Regions from separate parts of the Homo sapiens genome. Here region 2 is linked to region 1. The links come from fine-mapping of genetic effects on gene expression. A gene starts in region 1. The other region holds a variant in brackets. All regions are shown on one strand. Distances are between the middles of the regions. Region 1 holds the start of ITGB8-AS1 (ITGB8 antisense RNA 1). Region 2 overlaps ITGB8 (integrin subunit beta 8).

Region 1 (8,341 bases):
TGCTGCACCTTCTGGAGGTCAGGTTTAGAGATAAATATTCTGGAGGTGTCAATGTGGAAATGGTATTTAAGACACAAGACTGGGCCGGGTGTGGTGGCTCACGCCTGTAAGCCCAGCACTTTGGGAGGCCGAGGCGAGCAGATCACGAGGTCAGGAGATCAAGACGATCCTGGCTAACACAGTGAAACGCCCTCTCTACTAAAAATACAAAAAATTAGCCGGGCGTGGTGGCGGGTGCCTGTAGTCTCAGCTACTCAGTAGGCTGAGGCAGGAGAATGGTGTGAACCCAGGAGGCGAAGCTTGCAGTGGGCCGAGATCGCACCACTGCACTCCAGCCTGGGCGACAGAGCAAGACTCCGTCTCAAAAAAAAAAAAAAAAAAAAAAAGAAAACCAAGACTGGATCAGAGAAGTCCTTAGGAGTGGGTCCTGAGCCACTACTACATTTAGAGGTTAAGAAATGAGGAAGAATCAACATCAGAGATGGAGAAGGAGCTTAAACCAAGAGAGTGTGGGTCCAAGAAGCCAACAAAACTGTTTCCAAGGAGGGCAAGGTCAACAGTGTCAAGTCACCAACAGATGATACATCAAGCAGGATGGAGATTAAGAATTAGCCATCAGATCTGGCAATGTGGAGGTTACCCTGATCTTAAGAGAGTGGACTGCAGAGGTGATAAAGAAAGCCTGCTCACAATGGATTCAAAGAGAAGGTGAGGAGAAGAATCGGAGAGAGGAGTTACGGACAACTCTTTCAAGGACTTATAGCAAAAGGAGAGAAAAAATAGGAGATAAAAAGGTTTTGCCACATATATGGATATTGCTTTAAATGATACAGTAGATAGGAGAAAAACTAATCATGCAAGGGCAGGCAGATCCTTGAAACTGAAACTTTACAAGGTATACCTGCTGTGATTCCATTGGAATAAAACAATTAACATTTGTCACGGGAAGCAGATTTACTCATGTTGTTTTTCTCTGTTCATATACATGCGTATCAAAAAGCTATTACATATCCATACTTTCAAAATAAAAATATTTTTAATGGAACTATAATAGAACTATTGAAAAGTAAATGGTTGAAACTGTGTCTTTCCCATTCCTCGTGTCCTTCTCTTTTGCAATTGCTTCCCTTAAAAATTGTGAACATTCTTGTTGCCCTAAGTTTCAGTTTTTAAAAAAATTCATGCTTTAAGATTAGTTACAGTGTGTTCCTCCTCCAGTAGTATTTTTATTTACTGAAATATTTTAAAATAAAATGATATGAAAAATTTCTTTCAAAATATTTAGTTGGGAGAAGGGGGTGAATTGGGTACCAGCAGGAGCACAGATGAAAGAAGTTGGCTTTGAGTTGATGGTTAATGAAGCTGGGTGATGAGTATATAGTGGTCCCTTATACCATTCTCTCTAATTCTGTATGCATTTGAAAATTTCCATTATACCATGTTAAAAACTTTAAAAAATCATAGGGTTAATACCATGGTTAACCAAAAAGAATCCATTAAGTAGTGAGATTTCAGATAATTTGGTAACAAGAGAAGAAGTTATTTTGGGGCACAGGAATTTTCCAAAGCATATCAGCTACTTTGCTGTCAGTTTAGAGGGCAAACATGTATGATTTTTAATTGATCAGAAAGTGTCTCCATTGCTTCAAGATAGAATTAATTTGGGAGCTTATTATGCAAATAATTTAGAAGGCTGAATTTTTTGTTAATGATACCTTGGTTCTTTTAAATATCCGATCACTTTAGGTAAGCATAAATAATTCTGGGAACACTTATGCTATGCAACGCTTTGAGGGGAAGTAATGATATGGTCACAAAATAATGTTAATCTAGTTGATTGTTGTTGAAAATAATAAATAATTGATACTTGAATAAACAGAAGGTGAAATTTCATTGCAATACACAGAAGGTGAAATTTGATTGCAATAATAGTTACCGCTTTTTTAAAAGAAACTGTGATATCTGAAATTTGTTACACTTATATTGCTATATAAAAATTTAGGTAATGAAAGTTCTTAATCTTTTAAAATAAGTAAATGTGGAAACAATGTTGCTACATTAACTCTTCAAATATTAACCACTAGATATACTTTATGTTTTTCTGGTTATTTATTGACCATTTTACAGTGCTATTATTTCTCTAGCTGTGGGTAATCTTCACCAGAGACAGTTAAAAAACAAACTGCTATAATTTTTGCTACATCAGAAATCTTTGGATTTGATTAATAACATCCCCCACTGCTCACTATATATTTGTTATTAAAAGTCCACTATATGTTCGAGACCTATAAATTCTGCTTTAAAAATTAAACCCAAAGTTATGCTGGTCTTATGCAGCTTCTGGTCTCTTTTGTATGGCTTTATTGCCCTCAACATTCTCCTGGTGTAAACTACTGAGCAAGGAAACAAGATTTCCATTGTAACTGATACCTAAATTTCTATTCTGCTTTAAGCATCTAATTTGCACTGTAAAGACATATAATTTGAGACTTGTAGCTATATCACAAAAGTACAGCAGTTTATGCTGATCTCTAATTTTCTGAGTTATACTGGCTATAATTTACATTTTTTGCATGTTTTTAACTGCCATGCAAATCAGTATACATCAGAAACCTTTGTATATTGACAGAGACTGGGAAAAGGATGCCTTGTTCTGATTTCAGATAAGCATTCCCTTTTCAGGTCTGCAGGTGCAAGTAGGCCCATTCATAATATTTCCTTCAAATCAGTTTTAGACACTGGGTAGAAATGCAATGCTTTTTCACAAGAGCCTGACTAATGTTTATAAGCACAGTTAATGGTTTTTAAAAATGTACTTTAAATAGTAAATTTTAGAGGCAAGTAGGACTTTTTCCTTTGCCTGTACGTTGGGAACAAAATATACTGTGTTAACACAAATTTTGGTCATTTTACTAGTGTGTATGTGTGTTTACTAAATCTAGAAAAGCACTTTATTACTTATTGAAACAGGATGAAATTATGCTTAGCGGAAAATTTGCTGCAACAAATGCATGTTTCTTCCATTTAAGAGATAACTGATAATGAATGTTACTTTTTCCTTTGCCTTTTCACTATTTTGAAATCAACAAACAAGCCAAAAAATAACCACAAGATAAAGAGATTTACTCTAATTTCTCCATTTCAGATAACTGAGCAAATCTCCCTGAAACAAATATTAGAAAACTGTATATGCAACAATTTCCTAAAGATAGCTGGATGTTTCCATATATCTCTATATCTATATATATAAAACCTACTTATAAGGTTATGATTTGACTGTTTTAATTAGCTTCAGGCAAAACCTTGACACTTTAAAGTATAGGAGTAAATTTTAACCTACAAAACAATTACAACTATTAATTAAACTCTCCTTGAGCCCAAGAGGTCAGAGAAAGGCTCTAATATAATTTAAGGACTTGGTGACCAAACAGAGAAAAAGTGAAATTAAAAAAAAAAAAAAAGAAAGTATGACAAGAGTCACTGCATTAGCAAAAATAAATGTTGGGCCTATATTGAAAACCATTAAGAACTCATCCTAAACTCATGATTCGTCCTATTACTTAGTTGTGTAATTTTCCAACAATCCAATCTGGTATACCACCTTACATTTGATTTTGTTTCATAAATCAAAAGTCCTAAAACACCTTCTCATATGCTATTTGACTTGAACTTTCCTTTGTGATTTAGAGAAGGCAGGTATTATTAATAAACCTCGTTTTACAGATGAGGACAATGCATTTCGTAAAGAGTTAACCTCTCCACATTAAGGTAGCTCTTACACAAATGGTTTGCCTGGACAGAAAGCTGTTAATCCTGGTTCAGAGTTCTTTCTGCTTCTCTGTCTCAGAGATTGATCTCAGTGAGGGATCAATTAGATAGTATTTTTTTTTTTTAAGCCGAAAGGATGATGACTTAAAGCATTAATATCCCTCCAGTGTGGGTAATTCATTCAGATTGAGCACTAATGATAGCAGAAACTTGTATGCTGTCTTTTTCTGGACTCAAAAATTGAAGACTACTCCCATTATAACCAACTTATCTACAGCCTCGAGTTAAAGGCAAGTTAGTCCTTAGTGGACCCAAATGTTAGAAAGATAGGGAGAACATTGTGTACAGACGATGCCCTTAAGAATGGACCAGGGCCCCTAAATGACTTCTGTAAACAGGACACCCTCTTTTCCAAAATTCCTTTCTATTAGGGCTTCCTCAACACCTAGGAGTAACACAGAGTGTCTCCTCTGATAATTAGTCCTTGCTGTCGCTCCAGGGCAGAAATGCTTGACACCTGGCCTCTAGGCCATCTGTGCTGGAGGACGCTGCCCCGCACCCGCCCCCTTGAAGTTCTCTGATGACCGCAACTTACCTGGCCGGGATGCTCTGGCCGGGCAGCTCTTCGTGCCAGCCCAAGACCTTTGGGGAAGAGAAGAAAACAAAACAAAACAAAACAACTTACCACCTTGGCCCAGTCCAAGAACAAGTGAAAACACCCAGGCTGCCCAGAGGAACGAGGCGGGACCTCGCCGGTCGTTTTGCAGGCAGACAAATGCAGCGGTAAAAAAAGCCAGGGCCGAGCCGCACATAATGCAAAACAGCCCGCCCCGCGCCCGCCGCCTGACTGCCTTCCGGACGCGGGCTCGCGCCTCCCGGGCGCACCTCGGGGCCCGCGGGCCGAGTGTCGCTAGGACGTTTTCCGCAGGCCTAGCAGGCGGACCCCGCGGCTCGGAGCAAGCGGTGCAGGTAAGCGGGCCCGGGCACCGCTCGGCATCTCAGGGCCCCTGCGGCCCTCCCGGCTCGGCACGGCGGGTCCCGCGGTCTCCGCGAGAAGCACCTCCTTCGACGGCCAAGGGCCCCGGCGGCGACTGGAGAGAGGGCTCTGCAAGGGCTCCGCAGCCTGCTCCGGGACAAAGAAAAGAGCTTTTGTTTCTCTCCAGCCGGTGGGGCTTCTGCTGCATAAATCAGCTTAGCGAAGAGCCAAACACAATCAAACCCAAACAAAGCCCGAAGCTGGGGGGGAAACCACCCTAATGTACATTCACTGGGTGATGCTGGATCTGTGGGAGGGGACGCCGGCGAGGTCGAGGGGAAAAAAGTCTGTGGCGCATCAATCAGCGCAGTTGCTTCCACAGGTGGGCAGGGAGGCCAACACCATTAGTTGCAGCTTTGCAGCCCCGTCTGCGGAGCAGCGGGCAAAGACAAGTCGGCAGCGTCCTGGCTGGCAAGGGAGGAAGCTCGGGATGCCAGCAACAGGGGGAGGCGGCTCTGGGAGCGCCCTAGAAGCACCCGCCGACACCCGCAGGCACAGAGCGAGGCATCGCCGCTCCCTCCCTGGCGGGGAGTGGGGCCTGCGGCTGCGAGCGCAGGAGGGGAGGTTCCGCGAGGTGCCGGAGCCCGGCTTCGCGGGGCGGGGGCTGCGTGCCCTTGTCCTTTTCGCCTCAGTGCGCGGCTCAGGCGTCCCGCAGTCCAGAGCCCGAGTTGCTGGCGCGCTCTGGGGTGCACACGGCTAGGATGCGAGAGAGGCGAGGCCGGCGATGGGCGGGAGAGGGGTGGTCCTGCTCTGGCCCCCCGGGGGGCTCCAGACCTGCGGGTAGCCGGGTGCACTCAGGGCAGAGAGTTGCTAGGAAACCTCCCCACGCTACCGGAGCGCCTCGCCTCGGCTGCCCGCAGGCGCGGCTGCAGCCCGGGCAGGAGCAGCAGTAACAGCTCGGAGCAGCGTGGGCGGGACATTGGTGAGGCATGAAGTCACCGCGGCCCACACTCGCTCTTTGTTTTGCTCACTCCAGCTCTTTCTTTTCCCCCTTGGCTCTGATAGTTGCCATTCCCATCGTTCACAAGAACTCCTGAAGCGTAGCCGCGCAACAGGAATGGCACGCCTCGTTCCCTTCTCCCTCCTCCCCCGAATCCTTGCACCCCAACGCTCGCGGGGGTGGTGGGAGACTCGCTCAGCGCCAGCGGCAGCTGCGAGCAAACCCCAATCTCTCACCCCCGCGCTGCTCGCCGCTTTGTTCGGAGATACTCACTGCCCCGCAGCTGCTGCATACAAAGTGGAGTCAAGGGACCTCCCCTGCCCCCAACGCCCTCTACTCAGCACTTTGCTTGCAGTTAGGAGCTCGTCCTCTACCCCACCACAAGGCTGCCCCGGTGTCCCTAGCCTTTGGAGAGTTGGACCAGTCTGCAGGGGCTGTTCCCGGAGCGACTGGCCGAGATTTCTCGCTGCTCCTTCTCTGCTCAAAACCTTAACCCTGGACTGGACAGCCCTGTTTTTCCCCAGCGTCTGGTGGTGGCTCTGGGCTTTTGCAAGTTACAGTGGGTCTTTTGATCTTAAGCGTCACCTTCCCAGTAAACGGAACAAAAAGTTACAGACAGCAGCAAAGCGGGGAGAGGGGAGCTAAGGAGAGAAAGTGGAAGGCACTTCTGCCTGCTTGCAGCTCAGAAATTTAGGTGCAAGTAGGGTGCGGGTGTTATGCTGGGCAACTGCCCGGAAGCAGCGCGCCTCCTCGGGTCCTGTCATTACCACGCTAAGTCGAGGGAGGGAACTCAGTCCCCCGCATTGGAAACAAGGCAGTGTTTCCAGTTTAACACGGTGATGGTTCTCTTTTCCCTCTAGGGGCAGGAGCGATTCCCATTCGAGGAGTTTGACCTCTCATTTTAATACAACACCCGCCTCTTAGAGGCAGCAGACCAGTCCAGCCAGGTCAAGGTGAAATATGCGGGAGTTTCCCCCCTTCTTATTTAATAGTTTCCGTCTCCTTATTTGTAGTTAAAAAAAAAAAAAAAAAAAAAGTAGGAGGCGCGGTCTCTCTCTTTCTTTCTGTTGACTGAGTGAATGGAAAGTACCTGGTTAATAAACCACAACATCGAAACTCCCCCTTTCAGGTGTGGACCGCACAACGGGGTGCACAGGATTAGTTAAGCAAAGCAGGAACCCAGCTGGAAAATTAAACGAGCCCTGGATCTGCAAAGCAGGTCCCTTCGCGAGACCAAAGCCGTGATCCCAACCTTAGCAACATAATTCTACTGGAGGTGATGTACTCTAAATAAATAGAAATAAATCCAGCTCCGCTTTAATATTTATTTCCTTTCCTTAGTTCCAAGTTTGAACAGTTATAGTTTTGTTTTTTGGTTGTCTTAAAGGAAAGGCCTAAAAATTAGTTAGGATGGGTGTGAGGACTTGAAAATTTGAACACAAAAATATCATATTCAATATCTGATTAGTGACTCTTCCATTGGGCAGCCTGGGTATTTTCCAGGGGTTATGTCACAGACCTACTGAATGCAGCCACCCTTGAGACATGCAGTGCTTCAATCAAAAAAAAAAAAAATTAAATCCCTAATTCCCATAAGGACATGTCAATACACTTTAAAGTGTCTATCATATCACCATTCCATAATATTCTAAAATACAACTCTTTGTTGCTGGGTTGTAAGTGGCAGTTACAGTAATAAATAAAATATAAATGTATGCAAACAAGAAAGGATGTAACTTTATGAAATTGATGAGGTATGCACTAATTTTTGTAACTCTGTTTTTAGGTGTTGATATATATACTAATCCAGAACAACCATGTAGCAAGAGGAATAAAATGAAGTTCAGAAGTCTGTTTCGGGAAATTTTGAAGCCCTTTAGAAAGAAAGATTTCTACATTTTGTTACATGAAATTCATGCAAATATATGTCAGGTGCCAGTGCTATGGAGTTGTTGAAGAATAAGCACAATACCATTTATTACCACTTCTCAGTTGTAAAGAGGCTGTAACTCTGGTTGTCGAAATAAAATAAAATGAAATCTCCTAGATGTGACACTGTGACCCCTGCCAGTTATTTACAAACAAGTTATCTGCACATTTTGGGCTGTAAACATAAAAGTAAACTCTCTGAAAGACTGCAAATCATCTTTAGGGTTTTCTTAAAGTAAATACAACTAGTGGCCCAGGAACCAAAAGTTTGCTTGTTTCCAGTTAATGTCACTGGTCACCATAACTCACCCTTTTTCCTATGAGGAAATGTACAGCATATTTTAAAGAAATGCAGTATTGTTATCTTCGTCATATTACCTGAAGAATTCTAATAAAGGAAAAATGTTTCGGAAGATGGTGACTTGATTAATTTGTTTTTCCATCATGTTCTGCTATATTGCTTTGAAATTTCTGACAGCTAATTTTTCATCATTTGTGGTAATGAGAGGAAATGAAATTCACAGATAGTCTAAAAATAACATTTTAGTTATTCATTCCAGGCTTCCTATCATTAGAGTCTTTGAGCTGAGTTACTAAAAAGTCATAAAATTAAATTACTTAAATTTCTTCCCTACTCCTTTAACCTTGATTTCTCACTAAGTGAGTTT
Region 2 (8,341 bases), 50 kb before region 1:
CCCAGCTACTCGGGAGGCTGAGGCAGGAGAATCGCTTGAACCTGGGAGGCGGAGGTTACAGTGAGCCAAGATGGTGCCACTGTACTCCAGCCTGGGCGACACAGTGAGATTCCGTCTCAAAAAAAAAAAAATGTTCTCATAGTGTTTACAATTTGAAGCAGATCATTCAGCAAGCTGAAATCAGGTACTTTGTAGTCTTTCGATGCCCCAAAAGATGGAACAATCGTTTTTAAAAGCTGCACATGGACTTAAAACTTTCTAGTTGTATTCCATACCTGGCACAAAATAAGTGTTCCATGAATTTGCATTTTTATTAGTATGCATCTGAGACAAACCTGAGAAGCAGAAAAAGATTTAACATTTTCTGAAGTAGAAAAGGCCACGTCTCTGTCGGGAAACAGCAAACAAAATTAACAGATCTCTTTATTAAAAGATCACAATTATCTCCTCACATGGAATTCTGTCTGATCTCAACATTAGTTATAAATGTTTTCCAGACTTTGAAAATGTCAGAAATATCCCTTTCAGAAAGAATAAATGTAATAGTGTTATGAACGTTTGTTAACTCAGGTAGCAAAGTTATGGATTACATTAGCAAAGTAGCTTCTTAAGCTCTCTTTATTCATCTGCAGTCCTGGAAAAATTAAGTATAATTCCAAGTAGATAAGATTCATAGTAAAAAGAAAGCTTCCTAAATGGCATACTTAAAAGTCAAGTACATGTTAAAGTTGCATGAGGAGAGGCACAGTGTTGACTATTTTTGCCAGTGAGAAAGCAAAACTGTTTAATGCCTGATAGGCCTTCTGCAATTCTGCCTCCATGCTATAAGATGCTGATCGACTCAGCAGCTAGCCTATCCAAATGAGCCTGCAGGAAAAGGAATGAACTATGAAGCCAGCAGTAAGGGGATTCTGAGGAGGTATATGATAGGAGGGATAAAGAATCACTGGCCATAATGTGATGAGGCATATAAAAGGCTGCATGGAAAAACACCAAGCCTAAACCAGTAAATACTAGTGAATATATGGTATGCACTAGTACATACAATAGGAATGTGGTAGGATCTTGCCAATTTGAATCTCGCTATTTAAAACTGTGAGTCACATCAACATCTGAAAATCCCATTGATAAGGTTCATTGGATGACCTCCACATACTTGTTCCTTGGTCTTCTTTCATTGTTACTGAAGACCTTCATGCTATTCTTGGCCTCCACCAAGGGGTGGGTGAACAGTTTCTGGGAGGGCTCTGACTAAGGGTAGAAATAACCCTGGAGAAGCTGGGTGGGGAGACAGGGTGAAATTCCAAACCCTCAGTATTAATAGTCTACTACATCATTAATAATTTTTGTATTAACATCTGCCATTTTAGAAAGAATGTCACATTTCAAATTGTCATTATCACTGGATAAATCATAAAACTATACTATTGCTACAGTTTTTTATTCTGGCACTTGATCTTGATGAAAAAGCAGTGGAAAATGTAATTTATTCAATAGTGTAACATCATTTGCCAGCAACCATATACAAATATCACAATGTGTAAATATAAATTATTTTATATGTTGTTTTACAACTTATGCAAGTCAAATCATCTGGTTATACTTTCATAAGACTGCAACCAGAAAGACAAGAAATGACAACAAGAACATTATTTTTCTTTTTCTTCTGCATTTCAGTCGACAGACTGTGGCAAAGTAAAGAATGCAGATTTTAATATAAGATTGAGACAGACTAGGGCCAACTCTGCAATTTATTAATGTTTTAGCTGTTTATTCTCAGGCAACTTACTTAGCTTTTCTGACCCTCAGTCCTGCTGTTTGTAAAAGGAGGCTAATTATGACTACCTTATAGAGTTGTTGTAAAGATAAATTTGATGCTGTATGCAGAGTGATTGCTACAGTGCTTTCAGTTGAATACATACTCAATAAAATGGCAGTTGTTATTAGTCTAGGGTTCACATTGACCTTCAGGAAATAGCTATATGTATAAGCAACAGAACTCTGTCCCATGTAATTTAGACATATAAAGGGTTTTTTAATCAGTTGTTTCCTTTTATAAATACAAACCCCAAGACTCTTGAATCAAGAAACTCAGATACCATTCAACATTATTGGCATTGGCTGCTGGAGATAAAGCCAAGAAGCAAAGTGTTTGATTACTTGTCTTAAACAAAATTTAAAATTCCTCCATAATGGCCAAATAGGGGAGGATAGAGGTCATTTTGAAATGCACAAATAAATATGCCTAGAGTCAAAGTCAAGGTAGCTTTCAATATAGAACATTCCAAAGCAGGAGCACATCTTGAATGTATAAATTCATGGCCAAGGGATCAATCAAAATGCTTCAGCTTCTTTTACCTAATATGTAGGCAGTGACCCTACAAATGAAGGGAATGAGAATTTTTAGGAAGATAATCCTTTAAAACAAAGACCTGGGGTAAATAAAATAAAAGTATCCTTCTAAGGTGTTAACAAACACATTATTCCTTGGATTACTCAATATACTACAGCAGTGACATGTGGAAGGGTCACTCCTTTAAATACTGGGAACAATGACCAAGAAGGTAAAAGGTCTTGATGTAATCATCCAATTTCCTGATGTCATAAGAATCCAAGCCCTATCTAAAATTCCACTGGACTTATAACTTATTTCCATAAGGTTCTATAACATGGTATATGCCTAAAATTATGACAGCATTTCTTTGCCTAGGAAATCCTCCCTAGATGAGCAATAGTATCCTTTTAAATACAATTATGGAGAGATGACTTCAGTGACTTGGCAAAACTTCAAAAGAATAATACAATTTGAGAATAATGTCATTGTTATTTTCTTCTTAAAAAAATAAAAACCTTCTCTTTGTCTCACAATAGAATAATTCTTCCTGTACCCTCTCCTACTCCCCAATAAATAAATTAGAACTCTACCATCAATCAAAAGAGGTTAAATAGAAGGAAAGATAGATAAGAAATGACTAAGTAGAAGTAGGTGGGTCTGTCAAAGTGAAATAAGGCTGAGTAGAAGAGAATTATGGAAAGACACTATTGGAATAACTCCAATTCTTGAATTTTTGAATTCAATCTCTAGTTACCTTTTAAAATCTTTATATTTTGATACTACTTTCAAGAAACTAAAATGACCAAGTGTTGAACCTGTTTCATATGGTAATACAATTGCCACTCTAGAATTTCAACAGATCTGGTAGGGTATTGCAGATGAACTGGTGATCTACTTAAAATTTACCCATGGGAACCACACAAATTTCAGCATAATTTTCATGCTTCTGATACTGTGATTCCCAAACTGTGTGTGAGGTGTCTTGGTGCACTGCAGCACACTCCCAAGGGTGGCAGGAAATAATTTAAATCTTCAAGAGAAATACAGTGACATTCAGCATGTATCAGGTACCAATGAAGAACTAGTTGGAGGGAGTTCATAGTTTTAAGATTACATTTCGTTCTATTCTTTTAAATGACATTAATCTTTACCAAGCTGGTCAACTTGAAAATCAACACGGAAGAAGAAATCAGGGTAGTGATGACCAATCTGATTTCAGGATTTGAAAATTTCTGAAGTTACTTACTAAAACTGAAACATGTATCTCTACACTTGATACATTTGTATTATTTTTAAGGAGATACTAAGTTGTTAAGACATAAATAGTTGAGTTATTTGGACTTAACCACTTAAAAAAACAGAACTATTAGGTATTTCTTTTGACCCACGGGTGTCATGGAATAAAATCACTGAGAGACTAGGGTCTCATGAACTGAGAAAGTTGGAGAGGTTCTGTTTTAACATATGCAAGAATATATAAATAAGTGTCAACATCAGAAGTAAATGATGCTTTGGACTGTTGATTCTTCACAACTAGAATTAGATAATGCCAGGGAAGATATGGTTCTAGGTGATTATATTAAATATATGATTCAGAGCTTATACTAACCCTCAGGAAGCAAGCCAGATAGTCACTGATTTAAAAAGAGACCTTAAATAGATAAGATGCAGAGAGGTAAAGTACAAAACAGAGAAAGCCTGCTTTGTTTGACTCTCTTTCTCTCTTGTCTTTTTTCCCTGGTTTCTATTTAGTTTCTACCTATTGTACTGTGAGGTTTCCTCCTTAAAATGTTTGTAGATATCGACCCCGTAGACCTGGTCTATTTGTATAAAGCAAAGGTATACTTTTTTCCCCTGTCTTAGAATTACATAAAAAGTAAAATCTTGTATCATTTTTATTTTCAAAAATTATACAGTGCTTTGTCATTCATCAAAGAGTCAGCTACTAGAAACTGTCAAACTGTTTTATTCATATATTTTATTGATCAGTATTTATAGATTGCACTGTTCCATAAATTCTCTCTCATGGCTTATCCTTGTTCTGTATCTTTCTTTTGTAGGTAATTTCCTGGTACAAAAATAGTTGAGTTGCCAATTTAAAATTGTACTTTAACCAAAAGAGTCATATCTACTAAGCGGTTACTGCTGCATTACCATGGTTGTCGATTTGACATAGACGTTGTTTTTCAGATGACAGTTTCCGTCATTGGGCACCACTATGCCTGCCAATTTGCTATCAAGAGCGAGATGAGACGTCTGATCTGTCATCACCAGCAGCAATCTTTTAGCCTCTTTTCGCCATCCGATATGACTCTTAAAAATAAACATGTAATTAGACTTTGTACAATAACACAGATGTGTACTGTGGTTTTTACCTCAAGTAAACATTACGTTTGAGTTGACGAACAGTAAGTCAGGCTAGAACGATGTGCGTGGGTACAAC[G/A]CTGCTGCGTAAATAGCTTTAACTTTTATTTGTACATCCTCTATTTTCCCACAGCCATGTGACCACACTAGTTCCTGGCTAGAGATTTCTAGTGTTCCACTGGAGGAAGAACAATATAGATTAAAAAGTAGGAGAGGCCAGGCACGGTGGCTCATGCCTGTAATCCCAGCACCTTGGGAGGCCGAGGCGGGCGGATCACGAGGTCAGGAAATCGAGACCATCCTGGCTAACACGGTGAAACCCCGTCTCTACTAAAAATACAAAAAACTAGCCGGGTGTGGTGGCGGGCGCCTGTAGTCCCAGCTGCTCGGGAGGCTGAGGCAGGAGAATGGCGTGAACCCGGGAGGCGGAGCTTGCAGTGAGCCGAGATGGCGCCACTGCACTCCAGCCTGGGCGACAGAGCGAGACTCCGTCTCAAAAAAAAAAAAAGTAGGAGAACAAGCTGAAGTGAGGAGGGCAACAGTCTACTTCTAGTTCCTCCTTGGAGTGTGGCGCATGAGAAAAGCAGCCCTTTTGGAAAGAATTTTCGCGTTCATAACCTATTCTTTCCCTTTTGTCTTTTCCTATTTAAATCCCTCCCTGAATTTAGCCCCTCTGTCCCAAACACATACCGAAATGAATCACCTTGGTGAGGAGTAAGAGATAGTAAGATATGTTTTCTTCTACACTACGTTTTCACTCCACAAATCAAAGAGAAAATAAAACGTCTAAATTCTTTGAAAGTTTGGCATCTTAGCAAACACTCGATCATGTGAAACGTCTTACTTCACAGACAGCTGCCTGAAGCATGGCGTCAAAACCTCCTTCTGGTGTATCTATGTTTCCAGAGATCTTCTGTCTATGAACTGCTTTCTCAAACTCAGTGATGTTCTCTGTCAAAGACAGCACATGGATGTATCCATGGGGAGGCATGCAGTCTAAATTGTAGTCACTGTGTGGGAAAAGAAGAAGTGTAAAGTTTATTTTGCTCTTCTTAAGCATTCTGGAATACTTAACAGTAAAATTGTACAGTTGTGTGAAAAGGGAGTACTTCTTTTGTGCCAGGGAAACTTTATACGACGAAAATCTATGCTTATAAAATTAGAGATAAGCTCAATGCTGATGACAATTTCTTTGCAAATAGGAAATAAGACTATAAGCATTTGGTATTCAAAAAAATAAAGATGATTAAACATGTTTTTTAATATAGGACAGTTAAAGGCTTTCAATATTTAATCTGCGCTGTGAATTTTTAAGGTGAATATAAGAATGTGCAGTGATTTCTTATCATTGAACAGCTGAGAAACACTTCTGGAAAATGCTTTTGAGGAATTTAGTTGAAATATGATATTAGTTTTTTTTAATACTGCACTAATTTTTAAAGTGATGCTTGGTGGAATTATTGATGAACAATCAATATTCATTAAAATTATTTTGAGAATCTATGATACCCAGAAAGTAAGAATGATTCCTCCTGTACATTCACCTCAAGAAGGCTTATGAAACTCCATTGATGGATGCATCAATCCTGTTCCGGTACAACAGATGACAGAGCTGTTTCGGTAAATTGGAATGTGTATTGTAAAGTAATCTAAGCAATTTGTAGAAGCAAGAAAGATAAAGTCTTTTGTGAAAAAAGATCCATACAGATTTATTTTTCTGAAAATTCCACAGGCTAATGGCAATATTGTGTGAGACACTTGTATTTTTAAGGCTAATTCTTCTTTCATAGTGGGACATATGTTATTTAGAATCAGAAATCTAAAATGATAAGAAAAAAGGCTCTTTCTAAGCAATCAAATTCTCATCTTTTGACCCACTTTCTTTGTGATAACTGAGATTTCTTTGTAGTCACATCGGAGACAACATCATTATCCCCAGTCACAGTACAGTAATGGAGAGATAGATGACGTGTTGGCACAAACTCTTTAAAATGTGTCAAATCATAATTCAGCAATTTTGGAGCAATCAAAAAATAAAAATACAGAATTTCCAAAGAGGTATTTATATACATGGCAGCCTAACTATTGAAGCTTCATTCAAAGTTACTAACATTAGGTAGGGTTTTTTGTTTGTTTTTTTGTTTTTTTTGGTGATAAAAACTGACTAAATATTTAAAGAAATATAAAATAAAAAGCCCAATCTACAGTTCATCTCAGAAGTTTTCAGATATGAAGAAACCTCCCCACCTCACCAAATATTTTTATTCTTATTTTATAAGATAAAAATATAAAATTTGGTAAGTTCTTTACATTAAAAACAAAGTGAGATTTTATAAGCAAAAAATTAATTTAGCATATCCACATCAAACCCTAGATACCTGCATTGATTATGAATCCTTTCGGGGTGGATGCTAATGTATGGTGAAACTGTTTTATCAACGTATGAGCCAAATCCAAGACGAAAGTCACGGGAGAAAAATGCCATTTTTCTAGATAAATCGTTTCCAACGGAATTTAATTTTTCTATATTATTGTGCATTGATGCTGAGACATCAACAAGATAATAAAGATCCACAGGATATTTCTTCAGAGGATGAACTTTCAGCATAAAATTAGCTTCGGCTCCTAGTTCAATAGAAGAAAAACATCATGTAGTCTTCATTTTAAACTTTTCAGGATAAGCTCTTAATAAATTAGTCACATTCTAGCACCTAGCACAATCATCACAAATTTGCACATAAAATTTGGAATATGCTAGTGTAATTATAATAATTATAGTATAATTATTATTCTAGTATAATTATAAGGCAATTTGAAAACCATACCAATTTATTGGTCTCCAAATCCTACAGTTCATTTCCCACAATTCTATAGGCTGAATAGGGATAATAACAAATGGGCCAGCTCCATATAAATGTAACAGGGTATTGTATCATTATATGAACCTCCATTGCCTTAGTAGCTAGAAAAACACAGTGCAAACCAGCAAGCGGCATTCGATCTCAAGACAGTGAGGGGGATGTACGTGTGGAATGACTTGAGGAAAACTGGGAAGGTATCTTTAAAAAAAGGTGATCTCCTATTGGATAAAGGCATAAATTTATTCCTTTGGGTTAAAGTGTATTTACACAGGAGATGAGAAAACTCTGGTACTGTGTAGTACAGCAAGCTATTCAAAATAATTAGTACCTCATCACTAGTTAGTTGGTAAGATTCTTCCCATCAGTTAGCCAAGTGAAGGAATGAGACAGTGGGCTAAAGAATGGTGCCCTGCAGTGCCACATGGAGGACCTGGGGAAGGTAGGGGTCAGCATTTGTCCAACACACGGTAGGTGTTCAATGAACACATGCTGAGGAGGGGGCCCATGAGCGAGGCACCCACCTTGGGCAAAACAACTGGATGAGGAGAGGGGGCTGCCACAAGGACAAATGTCGGTAGTCCCCGCAGGGAACTACAATTTTATTTAGTTCTCTGTCATATTACTATTTGATACAAGGACTTGGGTTGTCCCCCCTAACCCTCTATAGAGTTGGTACCTCTACTTTTAATTTCAAGTATATGGTGAAAAGGCATCTATTTAAATGTAAGCAATTTGTAATTTGTAAATTTTACTTTTTTAAACTATTAAGTAAATGCTTTGT

The links.
Region 2: its variant is fine-mapped to the expression of ITGB8-AS1 in pancreas (GTEx, PIP above 0.99).

The regions. Positions count from the first base shown.
Region 1 is chr7:20,328,046-20,336,386 of GRCh38, reverse strand. It overlaps ITGB8-AS1 (ITGB8 antisense RNA 1), which reads left to right and starts at 4,625. Exons shown (of 3, transcript NR_110120.1): 1 at 4,625-4,737; 2 at 6,874-7,020; 3 at 7,531-8,086. ITGB8 (integrin subunit beta 8) reads right to left here and starts at 5,487. Exons shown (of 14, transcript NM_002214.3): 1 at 4,454-5,487. The coding sequence starts at 4,580. RefSeq lists silencers at 4,527-4,766, 5,237-5,626 and enhancers at 5,707-5,996, 6,097-6,166, 6,254-6,866.
Region 2 is chr7:20,378,034-20,386,374 of GRCh38, reverse strand. ITGB8 (integrin subunit beta 8) reads right to left here. Exons shown (of 14, transcript NM_002214.3): 4 at 7,078-7,324; 5 at 5,544-5,709; 6 at 4,490-4,648. Among named protein-coding and RNA genes, the nearest start is that of ITGB8-AS1, 50 kb to the right of the region's middle. The variant G/A (reference allele first, on the strand shown) is at 4,779.